Linked DNA regions of Homo sapiens. The protein of the gene in region 3 interacts with the protein of the main gene of each other region in a pairwise test. Each region holds a gene or a part of one and is shown on either strand. Other genes may lie near its edges.

Region 1 (7,029 bases), on a different chromosome or scaffold from region 3:
TTTTTTACGACAGAGTCTCACTATGCTGCCCAGGCTGGTCTTGAACTCCTGGGCTCAAGTGATCCTCCCACCTTCGCCCCCGAAGCCATTTCTTGATGCCCTAAAGAAGAAAAGTTCTAAGTGGATGTCATCACTATTAATCACCTGACAAGCACTGATCAGGCTGTATGCACAGAATTTGACAGTGGACAAACTTTTCTGTCCACCGTTCCTAAGAAAGGGGATTTCTATAAATGAAATCTCATCAGAAGAAAGGTTGGAAACCTGGCCAGGCACGGTGGCTCATGCCTGTAATCCCAGCACTTTGGGAGGCTGAGGTGGGAGGATCACGAGGTCAGGAGATCGAGACCGTCCTGGCTAACACAGTGAAACCCCATCTCTACTAAAAATACAAAAAATTAGCCAGGTGTGGTGGCGGGTGCCTGTAGTCCCAGCTGCTCGGGAGGCTGAGGCAGGAGAATGGCGTGAACCCGGGAGGCGGAGCTTGCACTGAGCCGAGATCGCCCACTGCACTCCAGCCTGGACAACAGAGTGAGACTCCATCTCAAAAAAAAAAGAAAGGTAGGAACCCAGTGTAAGTTATATATAAACATTTACTTAATATCATAAACGAACTTTGTTCAAAAACTCTTTCGACTGATTTCTGTTAGCTGAATCTTTTATTCAATCCCTTATCTAAAAATAAACAGAAGGCCAGGTGCGGTGGTTCATGCCTGTAACCTCAACACTTTGGGAGGCCAAGGTGGGTGGATCACGAGGTCAGGAGATCGAGACCATCCTGGCTAACATGGTAAAACCCCGTCTCTACTAAAAATACAAAAAATTAGCCGGGCATGGCGGCCAGCGCCTGTAGTTCCAGCTACTCGGGAGGCTGAGGCAGGAGGATGGTGCGAACCTGGGAGGCAGAGCTTGCAGTGAGCCAAGATAGCGCCACTGCACTCCAGCCTGGGCGACAGCAACACTCCGTCTCAAAAATAAACAAACAAACAAACAAACAAACAAACAGAAAACAGGCTGGGCACAGTGGCTCACACCTGTAGTCTCAGCACTTTGGGAGGCCAAGGCAGGTGGATTGCTTGAGGCCAAGAATTCAAGACCAACCTGGCCAACATGTCAAAATCCATCTCTACTAAAAATACAAAAATTAGCTGGACATGGTGGTGTGTGCCTGTAGTCCCAACTACTCTGCAAGCTGAGGCATGAGAATCACTTGAACCTGGGAGGCGGAGGCTGCAGTGAGCCAAGATTGTGCCACCACACTCCAGCCTGGGCGATAGAGTGAGACTCTGTCAAAAAAAAAAGGAAAACAATTAATTGCTTTAGGATCTTCTAAAGGAAAAGGAATCTCCCCTGCCCTCTGGCCAGGGACCCCTACAGTACACCCCAAGTTAAGCTACATATTATAAAAGCCCTCTTATTCCACGCATTCAGTTCCAGTACCAGGTGGGGTTCATCAGAGATAAATCCAGCAACCATTTAAAATGATATGTGAAAGTGTATGTATACACACACTTCAGACATTTTGTTTTGACTTAATATACAAAAGTATATTCATTTGACAATCTTTTGAAATAGAGCTGAGTAGGTCTTATGAGTTCACTGAATAGAGCTCTTTTTTTAATAAACCATACCATTGTATTGTCTGCAATTTCCACAATTTACAGTTTGGGGGTTTTTAAAATATTTTTTGAGACTAAGTCTTGCTCTGTCACTCAGTCTGGAAGGCAGTTGCACTATCTCGGCTCACTGCAACCTCCACCTCCCGGGTTCAAGCGATTCTCCTGCCTCAACCTTTCCAGTAGGTGGGATTACAGGCGTGTGCCATGACGCCCGGCTAATTTTTGTATTTTTAGTAGAGACAGGGTTTCACCATGTTGGCCAGGATGGTCTCAAACTCCTGACCTCAAGTGATCCACCAACCTTGGCCTCCCAAAGTGCAGGGATTACAGGTGTGAGCCACCGTGCCCAGCCTGGGTTTTTCTTAAATAAGGCAAGATTGCAAAAATTTGCAAGGCAATCTAAGTGCAGAATCTTCCTCAGTTTTTACAAAATTCCTCCCAATCTTTTATAGCTGACCCACTCATCCATAATTTCATAGCATTTCCTGAGTCAGCATTCAACTTAGGCTTCCTAGGAATAATTCTTTTTATAATCGATTTTCATCAGTTCATATAATCTTTTATGAAATTATATAATTACAGTAATAAGAACTAGCCCAACAGCTTTGGAATATATCCAACATCTCTTATGAGCCCCCAGGGCTAAAGTGTGCTGAAAGAAGTGGGGAGCGCCAGTTATATGGAGGCCAAGGAAGAGAACATCTCCTGTGTATAAAAGCTATTTATAAACCACTGTAGATAGAGCCTACATTTTCAAATTATTTTCTAAAAGACTCACCAGGTAAGGATGAAAGAATTTCTATATCTACTTGCTGGGTCTCTGGATTGTGGCTTAATATTCTTCCTTCCTTTCAAAAATAAAAGTCCAAGTCAAAATCAACATGTAAAACACTGTGAATATACTAAAAACCACTGAATTGTAGACTTTAAAATGGTTAAAATGTTGAATTTTATGTTATGTGAATTTTATCTCAGTTGAAAAATTTAGAAATAAATCCACATATAGAGAAAATAAAAACAGGTGGACTGATAAACACTTTATGTGAATATACAGAAATATCTTTAGAGGCAAAATAAAACATTTAAATCATAAATGGCAGACACTATCTTAAATAACTCGATGAAAGTAAAGATTACACCAGGGAACCAAAAGTGACTGAATAAGGGAAAAGGAGAAAAAAATCACACCAGGCTGATATATTCAAGTGAGCACTGACCATCACAGCATTCATCAGGAGAGACTAGATATATCCTAATGGTGCAGCCTCGGTTCCTGATGCTTTTAGAACCCTTCTAAAACAGTGATCACAACCCCCCAGGAGAAACCAGAAGGCACTTTATCACTGTTAAGATCCCAATTCTCCTTCTCCCAGGTCTCCAGCTGTGGGAGCTGATTTTCTAATGCATCAAGAGGATGCACTGCCCATGCACGTGGGCGATGGGGAGACACATGGTAGCCTCCGGGGGTATATACTGAGAGGCCAAGCAACCAGTTCCTCCTGCCTCTACCTGGAATTTCTGAGCACAGTCAACAGTTTTTTTTAAAACCAGACTCAACAGGGAATCAGGGGCTTGGGAGACTACATTTTTTAGTACAGAATTGAACCAATTTAATTTTTGGAGACAAGGTTAATGAATAAAGCAGATGATCAAGCTGGATAACTGCGTTTGAGGTCAAAGCAAAAAAGTAGGACCAATTTTCATTCTTAAAATGTTTTTGAAAGCAATTTCAAAAATCTTCAAAAAATTTTGCCAACTAAAGTAGGCAAAACACCTTCCAACATTAATAACTATGACAACTAATACCAATTTAATATGCAATTTTTTTTAAGAGTCTCGTTTTGTCACCCAGGCTGGAGTGCAGTGGCATGATCTCAGCTCACTGCAACCCCCACCTACTGCGTTCAAGTGATTCTTGTGCCTCAGTCTCCTGAGTAGCTGGGGCTACAGGTGCACGCCACCATGCCAGGCTCATTTTTATATTTTTAGTAGAGATGGGGTTTTGCCATGTTGGCCAGGCTGGTCTCGAACTCCTGACCTCAAGTGATTCACCTACCTTGGCCTCCCAAAGTGCTGGGATTACAGGCATGAGCCACTGTGCCTGGCCATTAATAAGCAATTTTTAAAAATCAGTATCATCTAGAATTACAATTTATAGAGGTTGTGGGATGTATCAATACAATATTCATTTCCATTTCCTCATATATCACACAATTAAATGTTTTCTATGGTAGGGTGACAAAACACCCTGGTTTGTTCAAGACAGGTCTGTACATCTTTCCAGCATAACTATTAATAGCATCCCTTTGACTCACAAGTATCCTGATTCAGGTGATAAATTACATGATCACCTCATCCATAGGAGATAGTAAGTGCCTAAGAAGATAAAAAACAAAACACCAACGACCTAGAACTAACCCACCAGATCCCTTCATTAACTGATTCTTCCAGCCTGCTTTTGAGGAAAGATTTTTTTTTTTTTTTTTTTTGAGATGGAGTCTCGCTCTGTTACCCAGGCTGGAGTGCAGTGGTGTGATCTCAGCTAACTGCAAGCTCTGCCTCCCGGGTTCACGCCATTCTCCTGCCTCAGCCTCCTGAGTAGCTGGGACTACAGGCACCCGCCACCATGCCCCGCTAATTTTTTTTTTTGTATTTTTACTAGAGACGGGGTTTCACTGTGTTAGCCAGGATGGTCTCAATCTCCTGATCTCGTGATCCACCCACCTTGGCCTCCCAAAGTGCTGGGATTACAGGTGGGAGCCACCAAGCCCAGCCTTGAGGAAAGGTTTCTATAAAGATTTTAAGTCTTCCAAGGCATCAATCCAGATTAAATCAAATTCCCTTGTATTTTATCTATGTTACTATATTAACACTACCAATTATTACCTTAAAAAATGGTCTTACATTCCATATAGTACATCAAAAAAAAGAAAGAATGCACTTTAACAAGATTTTCAACAAAATGTTGGTGGGTGAAAAAGAAACATGTAATTCTGTGATCCCTCTGACTGAGTCAAGCTTTTACTGAACTATGAAAAACCTCACATGCCAATATAAAGACTCATACAGATATTAAGTAAGTAAATTCCACGGATAATATTTATGAATTACCTGTGGTTACCTGATAATGCAGAAGAAATCATACTAGATCATAACAACCAGAAGTAATTCACAAATATGTAAAATAGATTCCCATGATGAAAATAATCAAATCTTCTTGCTGAGAACTATTTATTATTTTCTTTCAAAGTTTAGAATCATGAAGGAATGAATACCCAAATAAGTTGGTCTAAACTAATTAGAAAAAAGTAACTAAAAAAATTAAACTGGCTGGGCATAGTGGCTCACACCTGTAATCCCAACACTTTGGGAAGCCAAGATGGGGGGATTGCTTGAGCCAAGGAGTTTGAGACCAACCTGGGCAACATAGCAAGATCCTGTCGCTATTTAAAAACAAAAAATTAATATATTTTTTTTAAAAAAGTAAAAATTAAGCTCATCATTCTCCTACTCTATTCTTCCCAAGTATAAGGCAAATAACACAGGGAGACTTCCCAGTGATACTATTAAAGAGTTGACATTTCGATTAATGTTTTCATTTTCTACTTTCTGGCATTTTTATTTAGTAAAAAAACAAATCTGTATTATCCATACAAGTAGTATTAAATATGACTTTAGTTTTAATAATACACTGACAACTTACTTTTAAATAAACATCCTTACCTTGTAGTCAGAGACATCAGGAGAGTAACTGGATGTTAGCTCCAAAAGCTAAAAAAGAAGAAAAAACCCACAAATACATAAGCCCTCTTATCCTCTCCCATTCCCACAGCTCCTCCATCATGCCATGTTGGCGTGTCCACCCCGACCAGTCTGGGAGCCCTACCAGGAACCCGTAACAACACTGGGGTTCCAGTGGGAAGGGCTTTTACAAACACATTTAACCTGATTTTCTAAGTAAGTTTATTTGGAAGGGGAATGAACCTTTTTTGCTGTGACTGTTCTTTTGAAATATACCTTAAATGCAATCTTTTCTCCAACTTGAGGGGCAGCTGCTAACAGTGGTAACAGACTATAGTCCTTCTTGGGTGTCTCTACTGGATTCTGAAAAACAGTGTTAGTCATGTGACATCATCACTGGTGAGAAAATGTGAATCCATGACATGAACTCCACACACATTCTAAGGGGAAAGGGAGGAGATAACTTACAAAAAATAATACTTACCTGGATAATAGTAGATGAATTTTTTACCACGTCATTTAATTGCTGTTGCCTCTGGTTGTCAGTGCTTCTATTTACAACACAGGAAACAGGATGCCCTCGTCCTCGACCTCTCCCCCGCATGCCCCGTCCCTTAGCTCCCTTCCAAGAAAAAAGGTTCTCTTCTCTACCCCATCCTCTTCCTAAACTAGCAGGGAGAGACACACTGGGAGAAGCACCAGGAGCCTGTCCACCACCATTTGAGCCAGAACGCCTCCATCCAGCAGCACCTGCAGTCTGTGATGACAGCCCTGGGCCTGGACGACCTCTTCCTGCAAAAAGGCCTACTGTCTTTAAGAAACCCGCAGCACACTCCGGGGTGCTCGATGACATCAAGCATTGGTCGTCTGACTCTGCACTAGAGTCTGAACTGGAAGATGTTGTTCCAGAGGTCTTGCCCTTGCTGGGGGTAAGGCTAAAGCCAAGTTTTATAGCCAGTTTGTCTGCAGTTGTATTTTTGGTAGAGGGTTCTTCCTTTGATAACTCAGTTGGTAATTTCTCTGAGGAATTTCTGGCCTCCAAAGTGACTTTGCTGGGACCATCACTGATAGATTCATCACAAGATTCAGACTCCGAGGAGGAACTGGGACTCTCTTTTGAGCAAACGCTTACACTACCTTTCCTTTTGGCTTTAACAAGGCTGTTTCTAGCAGAACCTTTTGGAGAACTACATCTCTGATTGGCCCAGTCTTTCACTGCCTGTACTTTCGGAGACTTGGGATTCTTAGCCTTTTTTTTATATTCACATTTCTCCTTTTTCTTTGGTGATTTTCTTTTGGCCTCTTCGTTATCATCACCCACTGTGCCACAGGTTGCTTTATTTTTTCTCTTGTTTTTTTTGCTGACAGTCTGATCTGTGACAGCTTTTGGTTCCAGATCCAAGACCTTCTCATTATTGTTATTGTTCTCTCGACTCTTCCAATGCTTCTTTGAATATTTGCAATCTGGTTCAGTTTCTTCACCCTCCTCTAACTGAAATGCCCGCTTCTTTGCTTTTCTAAGAGATAAATTAATGTCACCATTACTGATGACTACAGAATTCTCAGCAACTCCTCTCTCTTCTAATTTAACTCTGTCAAAAGAACAAGAGAGAAAGCTAGAGTGAGCAATTTATAAACACATCTCCAGGACATAGTTATATACTGAGAT
Region 2 (7,029 bases), on a different chromosome or scaffold from region 3:
GTTTTTCACCTCTTAATAGTGTCTTTGAGGAACAGAACTTTTCCATTTAATTATGTCTAATTAAACAATTCATTCTTTATGGTTAGTGCTTGTTTATCCTCATTAAAAACATCTTTGCCTATACTATAGTTGTGAAGACAGTATCTTAAGTGTTTACTAGATTGTCTATCCATCTTTAATAAAGTTTTGTGGAGTGGGAAGAAGTAAGAGTCAAGGTTTGTATTTTCCCTGCATTTATCAAGTGCATTTATTAAAAGCACTGTCTTTTCCACAATGATTTACAACTCTTCTGTATTTTGTATTTCCAGATTGTTTCTGGCCTCTGTGTCCTCTTCCCTTGGTGTATTTGCCTGTCATTGCTCCAGTACCACACTGTTTTAATTACTCTACCTTTATAGTAAATTTCATATATAGTAGTGCGTATCTACTAACTTAGTTCTTTTTCTTTAAAAAAAACTTTGTATTTTCCTTGGCTTAAAAAAAACTTGGCTTTTCCAAATCTTTAATTTGCATATACTTAAAAAATGATCTGCTTGTGAATTTTCAGAAAAACTTTTGTTAACATGGTGGAATTTTAAATATGATTGCTAGGATCATTCTGAGAGACTTGACAATAATGTCTTTTAATAATGTCTTTTAATAATGTCTTCCAGCCAGGCATGGTGGCTCACGCCTGTAATCCCAGCACTGTGGGAGGCCGAGGTGGGCAGATCACTTGCAGCCAGGAGTTTGAGACCAGTGTGGCTAACATAGTGAAACCCCGTCTCTACTAAAAATACAAAAATTAGCCAGGCGTTGTGGCAGGCGCCTGTAATCTCAGCTACTCGGGAGGCTGAGGCAGGAGAATTGCTTGAACTCAGGAGGTGGAGGTTGCAGTGAGCAGAGACTGTGCCACTCTACTCCAGCCTGGGCGACAGAGGGAGGCTCCGACTCAAAAAAAAAAATGATGTCTTCCATTGCATGGAAAGAATATTTTTCTCCATTTACTGCAGTCTTGAATTTCTCTGAGTGATGTTTTATAATTTTTGTGTAGTGCTGTACCACATCTTGATTAAATTTATTCCTAAATATTTGATGTTTTTGGTACTGTTTTTAATGACATTTGAAATCTCATATTCTAATTATTTGTTGCTATTAATTATACAGAAATGCCATTGGTTTTCATTATATCTAGTAAGTTGACTAAATTTGCTTATTAACTGTAATGATTTTATTCTTCTGCATTTTTCTATGTACAGAACAATGTCATCTGTGAATGACAGTTTTATTTCTTTCCAAATTTTAAACCTATTGTATTTTCCTGATGCTACAGCACTTTTTAGAACCTCCAATAGATTGTTGAATGGATAGTGGACATCTTTGTCTTGTTTTCAAACTCAGGGAGAAAATACTGATACGTCACTATGAAGTATGGCATTTAAAAATTTTTTGTACATATGCTAACCAGAATAGGAAACTTGCCCTTTTTCCTAAGTTGGTGATAGTTTTTATCACGAATGGACTTTAAACATTGACCATGTATGAAAATGATCATGTGGTGTTTCCCTGTTTGTTGCTGTTGTTGTTGTTGTTAATGTGGTGCATTACATTTATCGATTATCAAATGTTAAATCAATGTTGCCTTTCTGCAATATACTCCACCATGATGTATGTCCTTTTTAAGTACTATTGCATTTTATTTGCTCACCCTTAGTTTGGAATTTTTGTGTCTAAGTTCAGGGGTGATATTGGCTTGTATTTTTGGCTTGATCTTGTAGTTTTTCATTCTTCTAAATTCCTTGTCAGATGTTGTTATCAGTTTTGTATCAATCTTCTAATAAGAGTTCCTAATAAGGGTTAATACAGATTGGTTTATACATCTATTTGAATATATAAGTATAAATACTTATATATTAAATACATATTTTGCATAATATAATGTATAATATATAGTTTAAAATATAATGTTTAACAAGGGTTAATACAGATTGGTTTATACAGCTATTTTTCCTAATAAGGGTTAATACAGATTGGCTTATACATCTTCAAATAGGTAATAATATTTTTATCTATTTTTGGTTGATGACAGCTGCTTATTCCACAAGCATTCTGATTGATTTGGTTATACCATCTTTCTTCTGTTTTACTTTGTGTACATTAAAATTAGGTTTCTTTTCCTGAGAACAGAGTGTTTGTTGAGACTTGGTAAATCTTGGCTCATGATTAAAAGTGAAATTAATGATTCAAAGTCTTGGTTGTATACACATATGCAGATTGCTTGCCATTTTGTGATTGTTAGATTTTTGTCATGAATAGAATATATTCATTGATGTTTTTCAGGAAACAATGACCGATAAAACAGAGAAGGTGGCTGTAGATCCTGAAACTGTGTTTAAACGTCCCAGGGAATGTGACAGTCCTTCGTATCAGAAAAGGCAGAGGATGGCCCTGTTGGCAAGGAAACAAGGAGCAGGAGACAGCCTTATTGCAGGCTCTGCCATGTCCAAAGCAAAGAGTAAGTAAGCCTGTCCTCACGTCCTCCTCATGCTCCTGCCTCATCCCCTCCAGAGAAACTGTCCTTGTCAAGGTTAACAGTTTCGGCTGACATTGCCATTAACTTCTCAGCAGCATTTGACAGTTGTTCACTCGCTTCTTCATGAAAACCTTCTAGGATTTCCATTTCCGACAATCTTTTTTTTTTTTAATTTCTTGTCCGTATTGGTGAATCCCTATCATTTTTTTCTTGAGATGGACTTTCGCTCTTCTCAGCCAGGCTGGAGTGCAGTGGCGCGATCTCGGCTCACTGAAATCTCCGTCTCCTGGGTTCAAGTGATTCTTCTGCCGCAGCCTCCCGAGTAGCGGGATTACAAGCACCAGCCACCACACCCAGCTAATTTTTGTAAGTTTAGTAGAGATGGGGTTTCGCCATGTCGGCCAGGCTGGTCTGGAACTCCCCCCCTCAGGTGATCCACCCACCTCAGCCTCCCAAAGTGCTGGGATTACACGCACGAGCCACCGCCCCCGACCCCATCATTGTTTTTTTCTACATTTCTTTTTCTTCTCTTCTCTAAATACTGCAAAAAATTCCTGAACCCCAGCATCTCTCTCTCTCCTTCTATTCCACTCTGCCACGATCAATCACTGAGCTCCTGAGATACCTCCATGTTTCCCATTATTTCCCGCATCAAACACATACCCTCCAACCCTGCAGCCGGGTCATGATGTTGGCATGTAAATCACGTGATGCCATGTCGCTCCTGAACACCCATCCTCAACACTCCTAAGCACTCAGAACCGACTGCGAAGCAGCTTTGGTCTGTGAGGTTCTGCGTGGCCTGGCCTCCGTCACCCTCTCCTCACACGGGCCCCATCATCTCCTGACTCTCTCTGCTACTGTCCTTCACCCCGTAGTGCCCGGTCCATCCCCACTCCAGCCCATATCCTTGGCCTCACCGCAACCTGGAACTCCCCCTCTGCCTCTGCGCAGGCAGCTCTGCTTTCTCCTTCAAGCCCTGCCCAAGGGTACCTCCACAGAAGGCTCTGCCCAACCAGCAGCAGCTCCTGGGGCTCCCTCTGCTGCTGTTGCCCACAGGCCTGTGGACTGCTTCCTTACCACTAGCCCAACACTGTATGTTTCATTTGCTCATTGTGCACGTACTGTCTGACCGCCCCATGAGGATGTGAGCTCCAGAAGGGCAGGGAACGTTGCTCTCTGGGCTGTTTACTGCTGATCCCCAGCTACCGGCACGCTGCCTGCCACAGACGATGAATAAATGAGAGGTGTCAGACCTGGAGTGAAAAGAAAGTCACTTTTGTGAGACAGAAAGGAAGGATGAGGAAAATCATACACTAAAAGGGATTTTTTGTTGATGGAGTACATGTAGAACTTTCAGCAGTAATGGCCACCTCTATTTTCTCAGAATATGTTTGATGTAGAGAGGAGGCTGGTTGAGGTGTGTCCAAGTTGTCTGGCTTCCAGCTTAGTAAAACATGGCAGTTTGTAAGTGAATTTGAGAAATCATGATATCAAGTGAGACTTGCTGCTTTCAACTTGTAAAGCATAACAAGCTGAAACTGTCCCATGAGTACCAGGGATCTGTGAATGTTGCTTTAGAGTTGTACTGCCTTACTTGGTTTCCATGTCTATTCATAGGGCCAGAAAATAAGAGGTGGTTTTATTGTATTATGTGTCCTGGCCTCCGTTTGTCAGGCCTGGGATTTCTCCCTGGTGTATCCTCCCATTTATGAAATAAATAATTCCCTAGAAACTGAGGAGCACATAGATGTACCCAGAGGGGTGATGAAACACACATATCTCACAGCTCAGCTTCTCAGTTTGATTTCCAGAGCTGTCATTCATGAGGTCTATGTGGAGGGGAAAGAAAGTGGTCAAACACCAACTGATGGCTTTTACTCAAAATCTGTTTCACCAGAGCTTATGACAGGACATGCTATTCCACCCAGCCAATTGGATTCTCAGATTGATGACTTCACTGGTTTCAGCAAAGATAGGATGATGCAGAAACCTGGTAGCAATGCACCTGTGGGAGGAAACGTTACCAGCAGTTTCTCTGGAGATGACCTAGAATGCAGAGAAACAGCCTCCTCTCCCAAAAGCCAACGAGAAATTAATGCTGATATAAAACGTAAATTAGTGAAGGAACTCCGATGCGTTGGACAAAGTAAGTAATATAAGAATGTCTGTTTTATAAAACTATAGGAAGTCTCTCTTTCTATGATTCAGAAGATATTCATGTTGCCTGTTGAGTTTCATTCTTTGCCAGAGTTGAGATTGCACATAATTTATGGTGGTTCCTCTTTTCTTTGACTAAAGCATGTACATTTTTTCTTTTTCTTTTCTTACTTGGTTATGGTTAAAGGAGTTACATTCGTATGTATGTGCAGGTGTCTTTTTTATTATTTAGGTTTTGTATGTGCAGGTATCTTGATTTAAGCATTTAAAACATTTCAGCCTCTGAAGCATGATTGCTGAGGTGTAGATTCACTTCTATTCTTCTTTATATTTGATAATACTGAAGTTTTTTTTTTTTCAACATCTTCAGAATATGAAAAAATCTTCGAAATGCTTGAAGGAGTGCAAGGACCTACTGCAGTCAGGAAGCGATTTTTTGAATCCATCATCAAGGAAGCAGCAAGGTGGGTAGAAATAGGAACTGTCCAATTTCTTTAAGCACTTGGGCTCAATAGAGCACTGGGGGTGAGCGTTGGGGAACAGCCCCTGCCTTGCGTTTCTCAAACCCTGGTCCTCACTCACAGTTACGGCTGTCTCCACAGTTACTTAGGCTAATGTTATCTGAGTGTAACTCATTCTTCGAAGACTATGGAGACTTCCATTTTCACCATAGTCTGAGGTGCGCATTGTCCCTCAATTGACACTCTTTGTATTTGCTAGACTACCTCTTTTTAAAAAATTTGTGTAGGCACATAGCAGATGCATATATTTCTGGGCTATATGAGATATTGTGATACAGACAACAATGTGTAATAATCACATCAAGGTAAGTGGGGTTTCTATCACCTCAAGCTTTTATCCTTTGCGTTACAGAGAATACAATTATACTCTTCATTATTTTTAAATGTGCAATTAAATTATTACCGACTATAGTCACCCTGTTTGGCTATGAAATACGACATCTTATTTATTCCATACTTCTACGTATTAATCATCCCCACTTCCCACACCCTCCACCCCCACTAACCTTTGTAGCCTCTGGTAACTGTCATTCTACTCTCTATCTCCATTAGTTCAGTTGTTTTACACTTTTACTCCCAAAAATAAGTGAGAACATGTGAAGTTTGTCTTTCTGTGCCTGGCTTATTTCACTTAACATAAGGACCTTCGGTTCTATCCGTGTTGTTGCAAATGACTGAATCTCATTCTTTTTTTTATGGCTAAACAGTACTCTGTGGTGTATATGTACCATATTTTCTTTACCCATTCATGTGTTAGTGGACACTTAGGTTGCTTCCAAATCTTGGCTACTGTGGATGGTGCTGCAACAAACATGGGAGTGCAGATATCTGTTCGGTACACTGACTTCCTTTCTCTTGGGTATATACCCAGCAGTGGGATTGCTGGATCATATGATAGCTCCATTTTTAGTTGTTTGAGGAACCTCCAAACTGTTCTTCATAGTTAGTTGTTGTAGTAATTTATATTCTCACCAACAGTGTATGAAGGTTCCCTTTTCTCCACACCCTTGCCAGCATTTGTTATGCCGGCTAGACTGCCTCTTACCATGCAGATACATTTCTATTTCCATGCTGACTGTTACTTCATCTTTCTATCTGTCACAGCGCTTCCTACAGCATAGGTTCTTTGGCTATCTTTTGGTTAATGACATGTCTCTTTCTTTTCAGATGTATGAGACGAGACTTTGTTAAGCACCTTAAGAAGAAACTGAAACGTATGATTTGAGAATACTTGTCCCTGGAGGATTATCACACCCCAAATGCATAATCTCGTTAATGATTGAGGAGAGAAAAGGATCAGATTGCTGTTTTCTACAATGGAGCAGGATATTGCTGAAGTCTCCTGGCATATGTTACCGAATCAAATAGCCTTCCAGAGGCTAAGAAATTTCTGTTAGTAAAAGATGTTCTTTTTCCCAAAGCATTTTATTTGAAAGGATAACTTGTGTTTTGGTTATTTTGTATTCCCACCTGTGCTGGTAGATATTATTAACCCATTAGGTAAATACTATTACAGTCGTGGTTTCTGCAGCAGCTCACAGTGTTGTAGCTGGTATTTATCACTACGTTCTTTCGCTACCCATTTCACATTCCCTTTGCCCTGAGATAGCATGTCAGTTGGTCATGATGCTTGGCCTGGCAGGATGACTCAAACCTTCATTACGGAAGAGTCTGAACCATTAGATGTCCTGCCTGGATGGGGTTGCTGTGATCTTCCATTAACTCTAATCGAAAAACACGGGAGGACTAAGAAGCTCTCTAGACATATCACACATACTCTTCCTTAGCCCCTGGTGTAGTGGGAACCCGATCTCAATGTTGAAATCTGTATCATCA
Region 3 (7,029 bases):
CCATTTAATAAATGGTGCTGGGAAAACTGGATAGCCATATGTAGGAAGCTGAAACTGGATCCCTTCCTTACACCTTATACAAAAATCAATTCAAGATGGATTAAAGATTTAAACGTTAGACCTAAAACCATAAAAACCCTAGAAGAAAACCTAGGCATTACCATTCAGGACATAGGCATGGGCAAGGACTTCATGTCCAAAACACCAAAAGCAATGGCAACAAAAGCCAAAATTGACAAATGGGATCTAATTAAACTAAAGAGCTTCTGCACAGCAAAAGAAACTACCATCAGAGTGAACAGGCAACCTACAAAATGGGAGAAAATTTTCGCAACCTAGTCATCTGACAAAGGGCTAATATCCAGAATCTACAATGAACTCAAACAAATTTACAAGAAAAAAACAAACAACCCCATCAAAAAGTGGGCGAAGGACATGAACAGACACTTCTCAAAAGAAGACATTTATGCAGCCAAAAAACACATGAAAAAATGCTCATCATCACTGGCCATCAGAGAAATGCAAATCAAAACCACTATGAGATACCATCTCACACCAGTTAGAATGGCAATCATTAAAAAGTCAGGAGACAACAGGTGCTGGAGAGGACGTGGAGAAATAGGAACACTTTTACACTGTTGGTGGGACTGTAAACTAGTTCAACCATTGTGGAAGTCAGTGTGGCGATTCCTCAGGGATCTAGAACTGGAAATACCATTTGACCCAGCCATCCCATTACTGGGTATATACCCAAATGACTATAAATCATGCTGCTATAAAGACACATGCAGACATATGTTTATTGCGGCATTATTCACAATAGCAAAGACTTGGAACCAACCCAAATGTCCAACAATGATAGACTGGATTAAGAAAATGTGGCACATATACACCATGGAATACTATGCAGCCATAAAAAATGATGAGTTCATGTCCTTTGTAGGGACATGGATGAAATTGGAAATCATCATTCTCAGTAAACTATCGCAAGAACAAAAAACCAAACACCGCATATTCTCACTCATAGGTGGGAATTGAACAATGAGATCACATGGACACAGGAAGGGGAATATCACACTCTGGGGACTGTTGTGGGGTGGGGGGAGGGGGGAGGGATAGCATTGGGAGATATACCTAATGCTAGATGACGAGTTAGTGGGTGCAGTGCACCAGCATGGCACATGTATACATATGTATCTAACCTGCACAATGTGCACATGTACCCTAAAACTTAAAGTATAATAATAAAAAAAAGGTTCAAATGCTGCCAGTCATTCCTTACAGAGTTCACTCAGTGAGATTCAGTTTGAATGATTTTTCTTGACTATACTGACTAGTTGTATCCATATCACGTAAACCTAGACATTTTTCTACATAAAGGAATTAATAGATTTTTCTTTATACACTCATGTCGGATGGACGTTAACTCTTCATTTGCTATCATATCACTTAATTAACTAAGTATATTAACTCTTCACTTGCTATCATATTGAGCCTGATATATATGATGTTCACGGTTTAAATTTTCTGGCCTGGAATTCAGCAAGCTCTGACACAAATTAGCCTTATCCTTCTTATTCGTCATCACCTCCCTATTTTACCCAGTCCTGTAGTGTTTATTTTTGCACTTATGTCTCATCTGAATTAGGACTAGCTACATTGTACGTGCTCAGTGGCCACATATGGCTAAATGGATGCTATACTAGGCAGCACAGTCCTAGAATATTTTCATCAGATTTCTCTATCCTTTTCCTCGCCCTGTACCTCCTCAGTTATATCTCAACTCCCTCTTCCTTAATACAGTTCTAAAACTAATGTTTTTTATTATTGGGGAATTGCTGGCTCTTCCTATGCAAATGGAACACCTCTGGCTTTAATAGTCACTTCTTATACCTTATACTCAGGACAATTCAGGACAAGTTGTTTGTTTGTTTGCTTTTTAATTGTGGTAAAATATGATAATACAAAATTTACCATTTTAATCATTTTTAAGTATATGTTTCATTGCCGTTAAGTACATTGACATTGTTGTGCAAACATCACCATCATCCAACTCCAGAACTTTTTCATCTCCCCCAACTGAAACTCTGTACTCATTAAATAAGAAATCCCCATTCTTCCCCAGCCCCTGGCAAGTACAGTTCTATTTTTTGCCTCTGTGAACTTGACTACTCTGGGTATCTCACATAAGTGGAATCAATATTTGGCTCCTTGTAACTGGCTTATTTCACCTAGCAGAATTTCTTCAAGGTTCATTCATGTTGTAGTATGTGTCAGAATTTTGTTTTTTAGGCTGAATAATATTTCATTATATGTATAGGCCACATTATATTTACCCATTCATTTGTCAATGGACATTTTGGTGCTTCCATCTTTTGGCTACAGTGAATAATCCTTCTATGGACATGGATGTACAGATAGATGCTGGGGTCCCTGCTTTCATTTATTTTGAGTGTACACCTACAGTTGGAATTGCTGGATCATATGGTACATCCGTATTTAATTTTTTGAGGAATCACCATTTCATTTTCCACGGTGGCTGAGCCATTTTACATTTAAGTAGAAATGAATAGGGTTTCAATTTCTCCACATACTCACCAACTCTTGTTACTTTCTTTTTTGATTTTGTTTATAACAGCCATATGTTTTCTTTTATTACCATTTCTGAATGACTTTAGGAATATTTAGTGAAGTTAAGGCCAACTTAAATCTTGATTAACATACAGACATAAGAATTCAAACACTGATATGTCAGTCATTTTACATTGTTTGTTGGATAAATTATGGTATTTCTGATTTTATTCAAAACTCTTAACTAGGACCTTGAAACCCTAAATATTCATCCTGGCCCTGCCACTACTCACTCTCTGACTTTATGGAAGTGGCTTAATTTCTTTTATATTTAAAAAAAATGGGGGTGATAATTTCTCACCTACTATATTCACTGGGTTATAATTGTAAAATTTAGTTAATCAATTTAAAATTGCTTTGAATACTCTGAAATGATATTGAGGCTGCTATATACATCATGGTGATTTTCGTTTACGTTTTGCACATATAATGCACTTTAGAGAACACTTACGCCTTGTTTCCTTCCTTAATTTTGTTTCATTATTTACCATGTACATTCAGAATAGCAGTCATTAAGCGTTAATGCAACTATGGATGGTAGTAAGGCAGTTATATTACTGAAGGGAGGTACTTTATTCTTTCTTTGCTTTCTAATTGGATTATGGTCTTTAAATTATATTGTAATTCAGAAATTTGATTGAGACTTATTCCCCTTGATTTGTCAGCTTCTTAGATATATTACTGAATCCTAGGTCCTGTAAATAACAATGAAAATTAATGCTCAAGAAATTACATTTAATCTATTGCTTTGACCAAGGTTTTGCTCTCCGTATTTGTATTTGCATGCAGTTTCTAGAATAACTTTAGTTTGCTTTCTCTGAACATCTTTTTATTTTGGTTAACAGAAGTATAGAAATTCAAATACCTATTTGATTTATTGAGGAGGGGGGCAGTTTTCATCAGTGAACTGGAAAACCTACCTTTTACTTGTCGTTTTCTAACTGGGACATGAACTAGGTTTTCAAAACCGTTAATTTTATTACTCCATTTAGTGCAAAGATTGGGAAATTAGAAAATGAGTTGTATGAGAAAAAGAGCAAATTTTACATCTTGCTGTGGCACTGGTGACTTTTGGTCTTTTTGAAACACTGTATATTTTCAGATGTCAATTTGCAATACCGCTCAATATAAGGATGGCCAGCAGGGTTAAATTACTGGAAAAGTTATCTGCAGCAGTAATTATAACAGTAACATTGTGTGTTGACACAAATGAAGTATTTTATGTGCAAGTGAGAAATAGAAAACAAAACAAAAAAAAAGATAAAAGTCCAAGTGAATGTTTTGGGTAGAATCTGTGGCATAAAAAAACTAAAAAGGAAATTGCAACTCTAAGAAACTCAGCTTAAAAAGTGATAAAAATATACACTTTAGGCCAGGCGCGATGGCTCATGCCTGTAATCCCAGCACTTTGGGAGGTCGAGGCGGGTGGATCACGAGGTTAGGAGATCGAGACCATCCTGGCTAACACGGTGAAACCCCATCTCTGCTAAAAATACAAAAATTAGCCAGGCGTGGTGGCTGGTGCCTATAGTCCCAGCTACTTGGGAGGCTGAGACAGGAGAATGGCATGAACCCGGGAGGCGGAGTTTGCAGTGAGCCTAGATAGCACCAAAGCACTCCAGCCTGGGCTATAGAGCGAGACTCCGTCTCAAAAAAAAAAAAAAAATATACACTTTAATGAAAATTAGAAAATTTATTCCTCAAGTATCCCTGGATGAAGCTTAAGGATTTGCAGGTCAAAATATATTATTTTTGAAAAAGGAGATTTTTGTAAATTCATTGAGATTCTGATTTAGCAATCTGTGGGGTGACCTGCAGATGTGTAAGTTTTCACAGCTGATTAGGTGACAGAGTTGGGAAGAACTATTTTATGGTATCATATGAATAGTGTTCCAGCTAAATCACCTCGTTGCTTCTTGCGTTCCCCTGTGCATTGAGCAGTTTTATGTAAATGGTTGTATTTTGCACAAATAAAAAACTATGCTTTAATTTTGGAGTTTTTAATTTTTTTTATAATAGAAAGAGAGGTAAGCACCATTAGACTTAGGGAACTTCAAGATTCTGGCAAGATATTCCCTAAGGATCTTCTATTTGTTGAAACAAAAAAAGAAGAAGAAAGACAAACTTGAATGACTTACTTGTGTCATTTGAAAATTATATGATCTACTCTCTGAGCTGGTTTCCTCTGTATACTCTGTTACTTCAGCCAAGGGCATTTAGTCCTTTGGGGATGTTGGAAGAGCCATCCGTGCAGTAATTGAAATATTTTTAAATCTCATTAAAATATATGTGGCTAATTTACATAACAGCCTTAACACACATATTTTATTCATATATTTTCTGCTACTCAGAGTGTAGTCTGGGTTTTATCAGCATCAACATCACCTGAGATCTATTTAAAATGGAGACTCTCAAGCTCACTACAATCCTTCTGATTCATAATCTGCATTTTAACAATATTCCTAGGTGATTCCCATGTACGGTAACATTTAAGAAGTTCTGTAATAGAATATGTTGGAAGAAATCTGTCTCCTCATCACTGAACCAGTCTCAGGAGACTCTCACTTGTATTCTAAATTCTGTTTTAGTCTAGTTTTGGATTTAGAATACTTTCAGCCAAAACAATTTATTTCTATATTCTCTGAAGATCTGTTATTCAAAATGCTCACAAAGAAATCAGCTCCTTAATTTTCATAAACATTTTTTGGTACTTGCTCTATGCAAGGCATTTAATCTTCATAAATATGCAATTTTTCATTTATGAAAATGTGTCCAAATTAACAAGGCTAGGAGATGGCTGAGTCAGGGTGTGGATCCGGGTAGCATGGTTCGCAAATCGGTAACCACTCAAAGTTCAAGGGAGGAAGCTATTTGATGTTGGAAGTAACATTCAAATTATCAAATCTTTGTAATGATGGTTTAATAGGTGGAGATACCTGTTTGTTCCTAAGCCGAGGATAAAAGTAACTCCTGATATTTACCTGAGACATATCATATACTCTTATCTAGTCACATTTGTCTATTTCACAAGAGTGTAATGAAGCTGAATTAACGTGTTTTGTAAGAATAACTTGAATAATTTGAAAACATCGTTCTTTCTAAACAATTATCTAGGAATAGCCATGATGGCTCACAGATGACTGAACTTTACAGCCAGACAATACAATAGAGGAGAAAAGAACGGTTTATATAGATATGAACTGAAGTCTCATGCTTGCATAATCACGTTCCCTATTGATGAAAAACTACAAAGTCACGGACTGTGTTTCTTACTTTAGCTAAATGTAGGGCAGTCGGGGAAATTGCTTCATCTTTTTTCCTCTTCTCTGTCCTCCCTTATTTTTTTACATAGGATGCCCTGGAAATGGCAATAAATATTTCAGTTTGATACATTATATTTCCTATGGTAGGGTAAAGATTAGCAACATGTAAATGAATATTTTTTTACCTACCCGAATTAGACTGCAGACTAAGGACCAAAAAGCGAAATATTTCCCATGTCTCCTCTGACTCTGGATGAAAATCCTCTTTTCTAGGTTAGGAAACTGTAAAGATTCAAGCCTTATCTATGAGAGAACAGAAACAACTTACTTAAATGTCTGCAGTTCAAGAAAAGTTTAAAAGGTTGTGACTGAAAGAACTGAAAGAAAATTAAGTGTATTCACTGATTATCAAGTTAAAACTGTTTTTTTATAATGAGAAGAAGAGCTTGTGATGAGAGTGAAGAATATTGTAAAATCAAATTTGAAAAGCTTATTGAAGGAAATTTATGTCCACTGTCATAAGTAATTTTTGTTATTTTGCCTTTCAGTGTGTATGTACAGAGAACCATCGCTACATGAAATTGGAGAAAAACAAGGGCGTTCAAGGAAAAGTTCTGGAACACCAACCATGAATGGAGGCAAAGTTGTGAATCAAGATTCAACATAGCTGAGAACTCTCCCCTTCTTCCCTCTCTCATCCCTTCCCCTTCCCTTCCTTCCCATTTACCCATTTCCTTCCAGTAAATCCACCCAAGGAGAGGAAAATAAAATGACAACGCAAGACCTAGTGGCTAAGATTCTGCACTCAAAATCTTCCTTTGTGTAGGACAAGAAAATTGAACCAAAGCTTGCTTGTTGCAATGTGGTAGAAAATTCACGTGCACAAAGATTAGCACACTTAAAAGCAAAGGAAAAAATAAATCAGAACTCCATAAATATTAAATTAAACTGTATTGTTATTAGTAGAAGGCTAATTGTAATGAAGACATTAATAAAGATGAAATAAACTTATTACTTTAAAGGAAAGGATTTGGAGAATTGAACTCACAAACTGATGTTATATACTCAATAGCTTAAACTCATGATAATGCTGCGATGTGTGGTTTTGCTTGATTTTGTATTTTATTTGGGCATC

The links.
Region 1: the proteins of FGF12 (region 3) and COIL interact in binary tests that used the Homo sapiens proteins (3 or more experiments, as listed by UniProt).
Region 2: the proteins of FGF12 (region 3) and CT45A1 interact in binary tests that used the Homo sapiens proteins (3 or more experiments, as listed by UniProt).

The regions. Positions count from the first base shown.
Region 1 is NC_000017.11:56,944,045-56,951,073, forward strand, and holds part of COIL (coilin), read right to left. Parts: intron 6,953-7,029; coding exon 5,845-6,952; intron 5,724-5,844; coding exon 5,637-5,723; intron 5,391-5,636; coding exon 5,343-5,390; intron 2,468-5,342; coding exon 2,398-2,467; intron 1-2,397. UniProt on the Homo sapiens protein: Component of nuclear coiled bodies, also known as Cajal bodies or CBs, which are involved in the modification and assembly of nucleoplasmic snRNPs.
Region 2 is NC_000023.11:135,716,616-135,723,644, forward strand, and holds the end of CT45A1 (cancer/testis antigen family 45 member A1), read left to right. Parts: intron 1-2,319; 5' UTR 2,320-2,325; coding exon 2,326-2,494; intron 2,495-4,412; coding exon 4,413-4,661; intron 4,662-5,042; coding exon 5,043-5,136; intron 5,137-6,360; coding exon 6,361-6,418; 3' UTR 6,419-6,613; downstream 6,614-7,029.
Region 3 is NC_000003.12:192,143,541-192,150,569, reverse strand, and holds part of FGF12 (fibroblast growth factor 12), read left to right. Parts: intron 1-6,442; coding exon 6,443-6,561; 3' UTR 6,562-7,029. UniProt on the Homo sapiens protein: Involved in nervous system development and function. Involved in the positive regulation of voltage-gated sodium channel activity. Promotes neuronal excitability by elevating the voltage dependence of neuronal sodium channel SCN8A fast inactivation.